2 separate regions of the Homo sapiens genome follow, and region 1 is reported to be linked to region 2. Evidence: microRNA targets listed by miRTarBase, many of them from high-throughput screens and not tested one by one. Region 2 holds a microRNA gene; the other region holds the end of a gene's coding sequence.

Evidence for each region. Region 2 holds the annotated microRNA hsa-miR-5194 (UGAGGGGUUUGGAAUGGGAUGG, at 3,601-3,622, shown strand). A microRNA usually pairs through its seed, bases 2 to 8, with sites in the 3' UTR of a target mRNA and lowers its output. Matches are read on the target gene's strand: a 7mer-m8 pairs with bases 2 to 8, a 7mer-A1 pairs with bases 2 to 7 and ends in A, and an 8mer does both.
Region 1: the mRNA of ZNF609 is a reported target of hsa-miR-5194. Seed matches in the 3' UTR shown: 8mer at 4,223-4,230.

Annotation. Positions count from the first base shown.
Region 1 is chr15:64,681,038-64,686,361 of GRCh38, reverse strand. It overlaps ZNF609 (zinc finger protein 609), which reads right to left. Exons shown (of 10, transcript NM_015042.2): 9 at 4,975-5,053; 10 at 294-4,670. The coding sequence ends at 4,980. Among named protein-coding and RNA genes, the nearest start is that of OAZ2, 20 kb to the left of the region's middle. RefSeq lists an enhancer at 319-820.
Region 2 is chr8:130,006,610-130,011,981 of GRCh38, reverse strand. It overlaps MIR5194 (microRNA 5194), which reads left to right and starts at 3,529; the gene lies at 3,529-3,648. The region is part of intron 1 of CYRIB (CYFIP related Rac1 interactor B); the gene reads left to right. LOC124902025 (a long non-coding RNA gene) reads left to right here and starts at 662. Exons shown (of 2, transcript XR_007061113.1): 1 at 662-1,326.

The DNA of each region.
Region 1 (5,324 bases), not on the chromosome of region 2:
CCTTACTTTTTCCCAAGAAACATGCTTGAGATTCTGCTGCCACCTATTGGTGATTCCTCTTCAATACGGCTAGAGTCACAAAGGCTAAATTGGAAACCCAGTCAAGATTTCCCTCTTCAAAAAAAAATCACCCAGTCAAGATTTCCCTTTTCAAAAAAAACTTTTGCTATTGAAGACCACTGACAGGAAAGAAATATGGTACCCAAAAGGCTGCACTACAGTTTAAAAAGCAACTTAGAAGGTAGAATATTTTGGGGGTGGGGGTGGTGTGTGAAAGGCAAACTAAGTCTAAATTTAAGAACAGGGACATTAAAAACTTTATTCAATAAATACAACAAATAATTTAAAAATATATTTCAATTCCAAAGCCAATTAAGAAGAGGAAGTAGAGAGAAAGGGAAAAAAGTGGGGATGAGGAAGGTAGAGGAAAAGAGAAAGCGGCCAAACAATGGTTTGGTTGGGCTGTGTTTCAGAGTATACCACCCTTTAAAATTCTGATCAAATACTCTTGACCCATAAACCCTTAGCCCTTGTTCTGATGGGGTAGCCACAGGAGTCCACCAGCTGGGAATCATCCACTGAGCTCTGGATCAGAGCATTCTAGAGGCTGGAATGTCGGGGGAGTTTTAGGGGTAGTTTTCCGGTCATTCCTAAAACCATCCGTCCTAACTCCCAGGCAGGTTTAAATAGTGCAAACTCTTAGGCAGAGAGCTCCCAGCTGCATAGTTTCACAGGTGAGTGTCCCAAGCCAGGGCCTCCAGGAAACAGGTCCCAGAGTACCCAGGGGTCCAAAGCCACTTCGGTGAATGGAAATCTAAAGGTGAAGAGAGGGGAGGCCAGGGCACAGAGTAAAGCTCCTGGGCTAAGCCAGTGGCCAAGCCAGAAAACAATGCTGGGCAGAAAAGGGTTACAAGGCAGGTAGTCTGGACACTGGATTCAACAGCTTGCCATCAGCCAGGGAAAGTGAAGCTGAGGATGCATATGGAGCAGGGCCAGGAAGATCAGGAGAGCTGAGGGAGAACAGGAAAATTGGGAGGAAGGAAGAGGCAGCTCAGCAGCAAACTCCAGGAGAAATAACCAGCAGCCCTCACAGATTTGTGATTGTCTCTTAAAAAGATTTATTTTCTCTTCTTGCCTGAATGTACAAAGGCAAAAAGAGTACAGTTTGTATATATATATATTTATATATATATATAAAAAAACAAGGAACTTGGTAATGTACACTTTACAGAAGGGAAGAATCAGGAAGACTGAAATTAAATTCAACAGAGCAACGCCAATGGAACAAAATCTATGAACAGCAACACTGCCCCTCCAGCCCGGGCCTCCAGCTCGCCCCAACCTGCTCCCAATGGGAGGGCTGAGCACCAAGGCAAGCGGGTGGGCTGGGGCAGGAGGGGCTGGGGACAGGGCCTGGGAGGGGCTTGATCCCAGGAGGGGGGCCCATGGTAGGAGATCACTGGAAAGCTTCCTGGGATGCCCAAGTAATTAAAACAAACAACAAAGGCCCAGAATTATGGGGCCAACTAGCTGCCCAGTTGCATCTTGGGGGCATCAGAGTAGACAAGGGGATGGTGAGAGGGTATACGGGATAAGTGACATGGGTGGCCTCAAAGCCTGTATGAAATAATTCTCTAGCCCTCTGCAGTCTTAACTCGCAACTCTAAGTCCTGCCATGGCCCCTTAAACGTGGAAAAAAGAGACTCAAGAAATCACCATTTCATTTCATAGGGTGCCCTCTTACCCTTCTAAGCGTGTGGTTCTTTGACCTTGTGATGTGTGGAGAGAGTTCGGTAAGAGAAGGAAATTTCATACATGTACATGTACAAGGCAGGAAAAGGGGATGAAGGGAACTGCCATACCTTAAAATGAGGAAGTAGTTGATGTGGATCCTAAAGAGCAGCTCTCCAAGCCTTGCCTGATCTATCTGGGGATGAGGCCCCCTCCCTCTTTAGCTTCTCCTCTATGGGAAGCCCCGTGAGCAATGTCTGTGAGGGCCTGGGCAGGGGTGGCTCATAAACAGGCTTGGTCTGGTGGTCTTGGCCCTTGGTAGCAAATTTTTCCAGCCTTTGTTTGTGGGGTGGGATAGGATGGGGACCCCTGCTGAGCATCTCATCCCTCTGACTAGGTCATGGATGCCACAGGTAGCTCCCACCTGTGTTTCTCCTCCCCATGTAGAGGTGGGCAGCAAATCTTTCACTCAGCACTTGTCAAGAATCTCCACAGCTGCTGCTTCATGTTATTTCAGAGGGAAGACTAGGCCCGGCAGGCATCAGGATCTGCCATGGTGGCTTTCACCTGCTCTTCTGAGCAGCTCCTACTCTTCAGGGGAGACTTGGATATGAGGATCAAAGAGCCAAATGTTTAAGAAGAAAAATTAAAAAGGAAAAGAAAAACCTGTTCTCTTCTGGAGAACCCAAGGCTGCCCAGCTAATACAGAAGTTCGTCCTCTGTGTTACAGAATGAGTGGAAAGGGCAGGAATGCAGGGCCATGCCTGCCCAATGCAAAAGAAAATTACTCCTAACGGTTTCTTTACAATATATACAGAGTATGCTGCAGGCCAGTGCCACAGATACAAAACACACAACAATATTTAAAAACAAACAGGAACAGAGAGGGAACCTTGGCTCCACCTCACAGGAGCCCCAGGAGGGCATAATCAGGCTGAAATTCAGTCACCCTCTTGGTTGGGGTGACTCAGGTGGGGTGGGATGACGGTGTCTGCACTAGCTACTTCCACGGAGGAAAGGGAGGTCACTGCTCAGAGCACTGCCCATGAGGGCAGCAGAAGGCAGAGGGAATGATGGGTATGAGGGAGGCTGTTTTGGGGCCCTGCCAAGAGGTCTAAAACAATGGTTTTTGGGGAGGACTCAGAACCCAACTTGAACAAAAACGAGGAGGCAGAAACCTAGGGAAAAGGCCTGTAGATCAGAGGGGATCCTCTTGAGCAGATGGTGACCCTAAGCCTCTCAAGTGTAGGGTTCCAGGGTCCTTGGAAATCAACTACTACTGGGCATTGTGCTTACTGTCCCCTATTTCCCATTTTCCAAACTGAGTCGGAGCCAAGTTCCTGCTCCTAGTCACTTTTGGCACTCTGGTCACACACTCCCTTTTCCAGCCTACACTGGTGTCTGTCAGTCTTTATCTCTCTCTCTCAATCCAGAGGGTCATGGAAAGATAGGAGGGGAGAACAGAGGGATGATACCTCAAAAGCCAAGTAAGCTAAGCTCCCCACACCTTGGGGAAGACATGACCCCAATAAAGCTACCAAATCATCCTCACTTTCCCAGTACAAAGAGTATAAAGCTTCCATTGGGAGACTGCATTTCTAAGGAGAGCAGAGAAATGTTGGCTGCCTCAAAGCACAGCTCCACTGAGTACATTCTGAGACTCTAATAAGTAATGGCTTGGATGTGTTATTCCAGGGTCTAAGGAACAAATAACCTCCCATGGCCAGTGGCCCCTCAAACAAAATATGTGTTACCAAGAAACACAGCTTATATTGGCCCACATGGAGGTTATAGACTGAGCTATATAAAATCATGTACTTGTAGACAGAGGAATTGGGCTGTATATATCTGTGGCCTCAAATGAGGAAGATATCAGATGGCTAGATGACAGGACATCTCCAAGAACTGCTGGGTGCTCCCAGGGGCTGCCTTCTGGGCCTTGCCCTAAGGTGACCTGGCAGACTCCAAGGTTCCCCAAGCTGGGGGGAATACTAGTTTATCTGCCTGAGGCTTAAGAGCCAAGCAGTGGAAAAGAAGAGGCAAGACCAGTGTGGGGATCCCCCTGGGAAAGGCACCAAGGGGTTAGGAGGGAAGGGAAAAGGGCAAGGAGTTGGGGAATAAGAAGCAGCAGGACTTAGTGGGGACGCAGGTTCTACTTCACAGACGTCATTCATGCTCCAGCACCAGCTTGCTCCCAGTGTCCCTGGGGAGCCCTGTGCTGGTGTTGGAACCCCTGCCCCCTGCCTCACAGGCAGCTCAAGGCCATGTTGGGGCAGATGCCTTGGTCTTCCTTTCCAGGCTAGGTTGTGAGCGTTTATATGTGCTCATGTAAATGGGGAGAAGTCTCCACATTTGAAGACCTTGTTTTCACAATTATGTAGAAAACAACCCCCAATTTCTTTCCTGAGATTCTAGTTCCTCCACATGCTGCCAATTCCCAGGGTGCAAAGCACTAGGGAGATGCAGAATCTGGTGATGGTGGTAATGATGGTGAGGGGTATGGCTGCTGTGCTGTCTTCAGACCTTACCCAGTGCTTGGGGGTGGGGGTCCCTCCCTGGTGGGCGGGGGGGCTGGTACTGCTCCAGCAGCAGACCAAGGGCTTGGGGAACAGAGCAGTGGCTTCTCTGGGCTGAGGCCATGTTCCCCTGGTTGCTTCCCGTGCCTTCATCTCCACAGAGGCCACAATAGTCATAACTGTGGCTGAGAGAATAAATATTTTTGCTAAGTACCAGCTCTCCAGCTCCTGAGGAAGAGGTAGGGTCAGGTAGTCCGGAGGTCTGGTGGAGGTGAGATAGCCAAGGGTCTGCCTTCAGTCATGGTGGAAACGGCAAACAGGATGATCAACACCATTTAACTGATGTCTAAACGGCACCTTCAGCACCTCCTTGGGTAAGCCAGTCCGGGCCCGTGAAGCTGACTTTATCCGGGCACTTGGTGTCTGCAAGGGAAACATGGACAGATAACCAGGCACTCAGCCTGTTGGTAAAAAAACCACAAGGTGGCACTCCAAGAAAATGAATTGTAGGAGTGGCCAGTACTGGTCCCTAGGGGACACTGTGTTCCACAGGTCCTCTCAGATGCACATGGCTTCACGGGAGACTCTTGTACAAGAGGCTTGGCCAGGGTTCCATGGATTCCAGACTGCTGACCCCTCATAGCTATTTCTCACCTAGGGATTCTGTGATCCAGGTAGCAACTATCCCGGCTTTATGTGTTGCCCCAAATTAATAAAAGTGACTTACCATTCTCACCTCCTGGGGGGTGGGTAGAGTGAGGGAGTTGAGCCTTGTTGGCTGGCAACAATGGCTGTAGAAGAAAGCCCTGAATAAGCAGGAGAACATGTTAGTGTAGCACTCACAGAAACCTTCCATTAATCTTTTTCCCTGAGTTTTGGGGTGCTGACAGAAAAAAAAATCTGATACTCAGCCAGATATATTTGCTGGAGATAGATAATAAGGCTCTATTTCTCAGCTGATTGTTTCTCTTTGCCTTTGGGGAACACCTGTTCCATATTCTTCTGACTATCAAGGCCAGTATTCTGGAGGAATTTAAGAGTCCCCAAACTCCAAGGGAGGAATAAATATCATATGCT
Region 2 (5,372 bases):
AAATGTCAAGAGTAGAGAAATGAGGGAAGAGAGCTTTCTGAACGTGGACATGGGATCCGTGTGGGTGAGTGGGCAGCCAGTCTGTCTGACTCTGCCAGGCCTCAGCGTTCTTTTTTTTTTTAATTATTTTTATTTTTATTTTTAGTTTTGAGATGGAGTCTCGCTCTGTCGCCCAGGCTGGAGTGCAGTGGTGCGATCTCGGCTCACTGCAAGCTCCGCCTCCCGGATTCATGCCATTCTTCTGCCTCAGCCTCCCGAGTAGCTGGGACTACAGGCACCCGCCACCATGCCTGGCTAATTTCTTTCTTTCTTTTTTTTTTGTATTTTTAGTAGAGATGGGGTTTTACCGTGTTTGCTAGGATGGTCTCAATCTGCTGACCTTGTGATCCGCCCGCCTCGGCCTCCCAACGTGCTGGGATTACAGGCGTGAGCCACCATGCCCAGCCTAATTTTTATTTTTTGAGATGGAGTCTTGCTTTGTTGCCCAGGTTAGAGTGCAATGGCATGATCTCAGCTCACCGCAACCTCTGCCTCCCGGGTTCAAGCGATTCTCCTGCCCCAGCCTCCCGAGTAGCTGGGATTACAGGCGCGTACCACCACACCAGGCTAATTTTTGTATTTTTAGTAGAGACAGGGTTTCCCCATATTGGCCAGGCCGGTCTCGAACTCCTGACCTCAGGTGATCTACCCACCTCAGCCTCCCAATGTGCTGGGATTACAGGCATGAGCCATTACGCCTGGCCGCCTCAGCGTTCTTGAAAGCTTCCTGGGCTTCCTTGAGGGTCGGAGAGGGCCACTGAGTAATGTGTGCCAGGAGTCCCCCCGGGGAGCACACATTTCAGATTCTGCTTGTGAGAGTCAGTGGCGGGCTTCTAGAAGGTTCCTAAGGCAGATCTCTTTTGGTTAATGATGGGCTATGTTTTAGTGAGACCTGCTAAGGCCATAGTTCCGGAGGCTTCTAGGTGGTAGAAGCAAGGGAGGGAGGAGTTGGAAGAGAACTTTCCAAACTTGAGTGTGCTGCGCATCACGTGGGGATTGCCTCGGAGGTTCTGAGCAGGGGCTGGGGCAGGGTGAGATGCTGCATTTTGAACACTTTTGCACATGATGCGATGCCTCTGGATTGTAGACCATACTTTGAGTGCAGTGGGCCAGGAGATCATCCAACCTGACCCTCTCCCCTTCATTCATTCAGGAGCCAGGCTGATGCTGATGGTGCAAATCTCTACATGACCCTGGAGGTTTCCAAGTTAGCTTAGAGGAGGAGGCATGCATGCGAAAACACACATATGACAAAGTGACAAAGGCCTAGGATGGACCTCAGGACAGGTGACAGTGGGAGCAGGAAGGGGTGGGAGAGAGACCACCTCTGTCTGCCAGCAGGTGCTGAATAAGCCCAGGAGGGCCTAGATGCTGTGAGCCATTGAGATGGGGCTGCCTTCAGGGAGCGGGGGAGGAGAGGCAGTGTGAGCTGAAGGACTGAGCAGAAACCCCATACTCAGAGTTTCAGGCCTAAGCATCCAGTACTCTAATTTTAACACACAAGGGAACTGGGACCTCCTGGGGGGAAGCATCTTGACCAAGAGGCACAGTCAGGACTGGAACCTAGGCCTCTGGCTCCTGAGCCTGGTTTTTGCTCACCGCTCCACAGTGCCACCCTCTGCATCCACTGCTGTGTTTAGCAGTAAGGCTGTGAGAGCAGGAGGATGCTGAGGACTTTCTCTAGTTCAAAATGTACCTCTGCCCTTGACCTTCGTTCATCAGGGGACTAGGCACTTAAATCCACAGTGAAAAAGAAGGCCCAATGTGGGAAAAGTGACAGCTTTGAAATCAACATAAACCATGCCAGAGACTAATCCTCTTTCTGTCTTTTCCCCCTCCCAGCACCAGCATCCTTTGATAAGAAGGTGGGGGAAGGACAGTGAGGGCCCCGTTGTGCAGAGGAGTTAAGGATGGGAAAGGCTTGGGCGGTAGGAGGAAGAAAAGCTCCATTCTTTCCTCATCTGCCTAATAGAGTCTCCTGTCACTGGCTCTGTCTGGCCGCTTTAAGCTCTTTGGAATTTACATCCAGTGCTCACTCAACAAAGCCTATTGCATGGCAGGGCTGATGGAGCCCTGGGCCTGCTTCTCAGCGCTGCATGACCTTGGGCAAATCACATCCCACTGCAGAACCAGAATTGTCATTGATGAAGCTGGGCTACTATCACCTGCTTCCCTGGAATGTTTGGAGGATTGAGTGGGATAATGTGTATCAAAGCATCTAGCATAGTCTAGCAGAAAGCCTCCATATACACGTCCTTCTCCCATGGGGCATAGTCACAGGTGGGTGAGAGCTGTATGATTTGTCCAGGGCTATCCTTCTGGCAGAGATGGGATCTGAATTTAATGCAGGGGGACAGTTTTTCATGATGCTTTTGGGCCGGGCGCAGTGGCTCACACCTGTAATCCCAGCACTTTGGAAGGCCGAGGCGGGTGGATCACCTGAGGTCAGGAGTTCAAGACCAGCCTGGCCAACATGGTGAAACCCTGTTTCTACTAAAAATACAAAAATTAGCTGGGCGTGTTGGCTGGCACCTGTAATCCCAGCTACTCGGGAGGCTGAGGCAGGAGAATTGCTTGAACCTGGGAGGCAGAGGTTGCAATGAGCCAAAATTGTGCCATTGCACTCCAGCCTGGGTGACAAGAGGGAAACTCTGTCTCAAAAAAAAAAAAAAAGATGCTTTTGAACTCCTCAGATGGCTTTATGAAAAATGAAACACTTTGCCATGTTAGTGGTTGGCGCCTTTGAAAAAGGACAGTGGCAGGTTGAGAAGCAAGGACCTTGGAGCCAAGGAGATCTTTGATTCAGACCCGACTCCCTGACTGTGAAGTCTTTTGCACATTGCATAACCTCTCTTGGCATCTCAGTGTCTGTTTTCCAGCTTGTTGTGGCTCTTAGGTCAGAAGATGTCTGAATATGCCTGACATAGGGTCTAGCATCAGTGAGTGCTCAGTAATTTGAGTCCCTGGTCTACAGAGCCTCAGTGCTGGGACTCAGGGAGAGGAACATGTAGACTAAGGGAAGTTTCTTCACCAGCCCCAGCTTTGCTCAAAACCAGAGTTGAAGTAGAATGCAGAAGACGACGTGGAAGTGAAACTTGGGCAATAACTTCCTAAAATGTCTGCTTTGCTCCCCTGAACTCTGGTTTTGTGTCTTGCCCTCTGCTTCTGGGACACGAGAGACCAACCAGTGTGTAGACAGATCAAACAGGCTTGCAAATGAAAGAATCAAATGGAGATTTCTGTGTTTTCTGAAAAGTGGTATTTTACAGTCATTCCTAAACATGCCTTCATAACTCTCAAGTTTTCAGGTCTTGAGGGAGGAGTGAGATTCATCCTGCCATTCAACAACAGAACAGTCACTGAGTGTGCACCTCCTGTGTGCTAGGCCCCGTGATGGATCCACATGGGGAATGATAGTGTGTGCCCCACAGTCACCCCACACATGTCCCTGAGGCCTGAACAGCTTGGAGAATGAAGGAGTTTGGGTTTATTTCTTTGGGTTAACTTAAACTCAGCCCTTCTAGGCCCATTCTTTTCACTCAGGAATTGGATAAGCTTTTCTGAGGGGTTTGGAATGGGATGGCAGGGAGAGTCACCAGACACCATGAATGACAGGCCAGCAGGTTGATGGTGGCGAGTGGAGCAGGAGCTAGGGAGTGAGGTCACATTTCTGGACTATGTGTGCAGGCAGCTATGGACCTGGCAGAAAGCCCCTCTATTTATTTATTTATTTAGAGACAGAGTCTCGCTCTGTCACCCAGGCTGGAGTGCAGTGGCACGATCTCGGCTCACTGCAACCTCCACCTCCCGGGTTCAAGCAATTCTCCTGCCTCAGCCTCCCGAGTAGCTGGGACTACAGGCGCCCGCAACCATACCTGGCTAATTTTTGTACTTTTAGTAGAGATGGAGTTTCACCATGTTGGACAGGCCAGTCTTGAACACCTGACCTCAGATGATCTGGCCGCCTCGGCCTCCTAAAGTGCTGGGATTACAGGCGTGAGCCACCATGCCTGGCCTGGAAGCCCCTCTTAACAGGGCTCCCATCAGGATCACGTCGTGGGTTTCTGTGATTTTTTTGGTCTCCTTTATGGCAATATTAACTTTCTTTTATGGAGCATGGAGCAAGTGTCCTGTACTTTGTTGTTGTTGCTGTTTTTGGAGATGGAGTTTCGCTCTTGTTGCCCAGGCTGGAGTGCAATGGTGCAATCTCGGCTCAGCGCAACCTCCGTCTCCCAGGTTCAAGCAATTCTCCTGCCTTAGCCTCCAAAGTAGCTGGGATTATAGGCCTGTGCCACCACGCCCAGCTAATGTTGTATTTTTAGTAGCGACAGGGTTTCACCATGTTGGGCAGGCTGGTCTCGAACTCCTGACCTCAGGCGATCCACCTGCCTCGGCCTCCCAAAGTGCTGGGATTACAGGCGTGAGCCACTGCGCCCAGCCATGTCATATACTTTGAATATTTTATTTCTTACTTTCATGGTAACTCTGTGAGGCAGGTAATATTATTCCCGTTTTACAGATGAGGAAACTGAGAAAACCTGGAGGCTGATAAAAAGCAGAGCTGGAATTCAAACATACCAGGCCAGCTTCAGTGCCCACCTCCTGTTTTTACTACCTCCTTTGGGTGAACCTCAAACGTAACTGGAAAAGTCTATGAATGGAGTTGTGTAGCCGAGAGCAGACACTGCTCCTGCTGGACCCTGCTGGGAGAGGGCGGTGGTTTTCTCAGTGGGCATCTCATAACGGCGGGCATCTCAGCAGCCCTCAGGGCCAAGAACCACCTACTGCAAACTCGTCAGCCAAGGAAGCTCAGAATTTATAATTGTGGTTGTAAGTAGATTACTTGAGCTAATGTGAGCAGTGAGGTTTTTGGTAAAGTTAGTGTGAAACTGACTCATACTAATAATCTACCTCTTGATGCATTTGGTGTTGCGATTTGTAGCACTTTGCATTGTCTGCATACATGCATCCCCACTAGAAAAGATTTGGGGGAAAGAAGGGTCCTGAGACCATACACTCTGGGGGATTGAATTTGAAAGGAAAATTTCAATGTTTGGATGCTGGTCCATGTAGACTTGAGCAAATAAGGTGCACATAGGATTTATACCTCTGCTTTCAAGTCCCCCCACCCATTTTCTATATGTGACCTTGCCAGCATACTCTATGCATGTGTTCCCCCTTCTGCAGGATTTCTTTAATCTGCTCATACCTTGGGTGTGCTTACACTTCCTGGGTGGGAGGTTCCAGATATATGTGTGTATATATATACATATATATATACATATATATATGTATATATATACACATATATATGTATATATATACACATATAT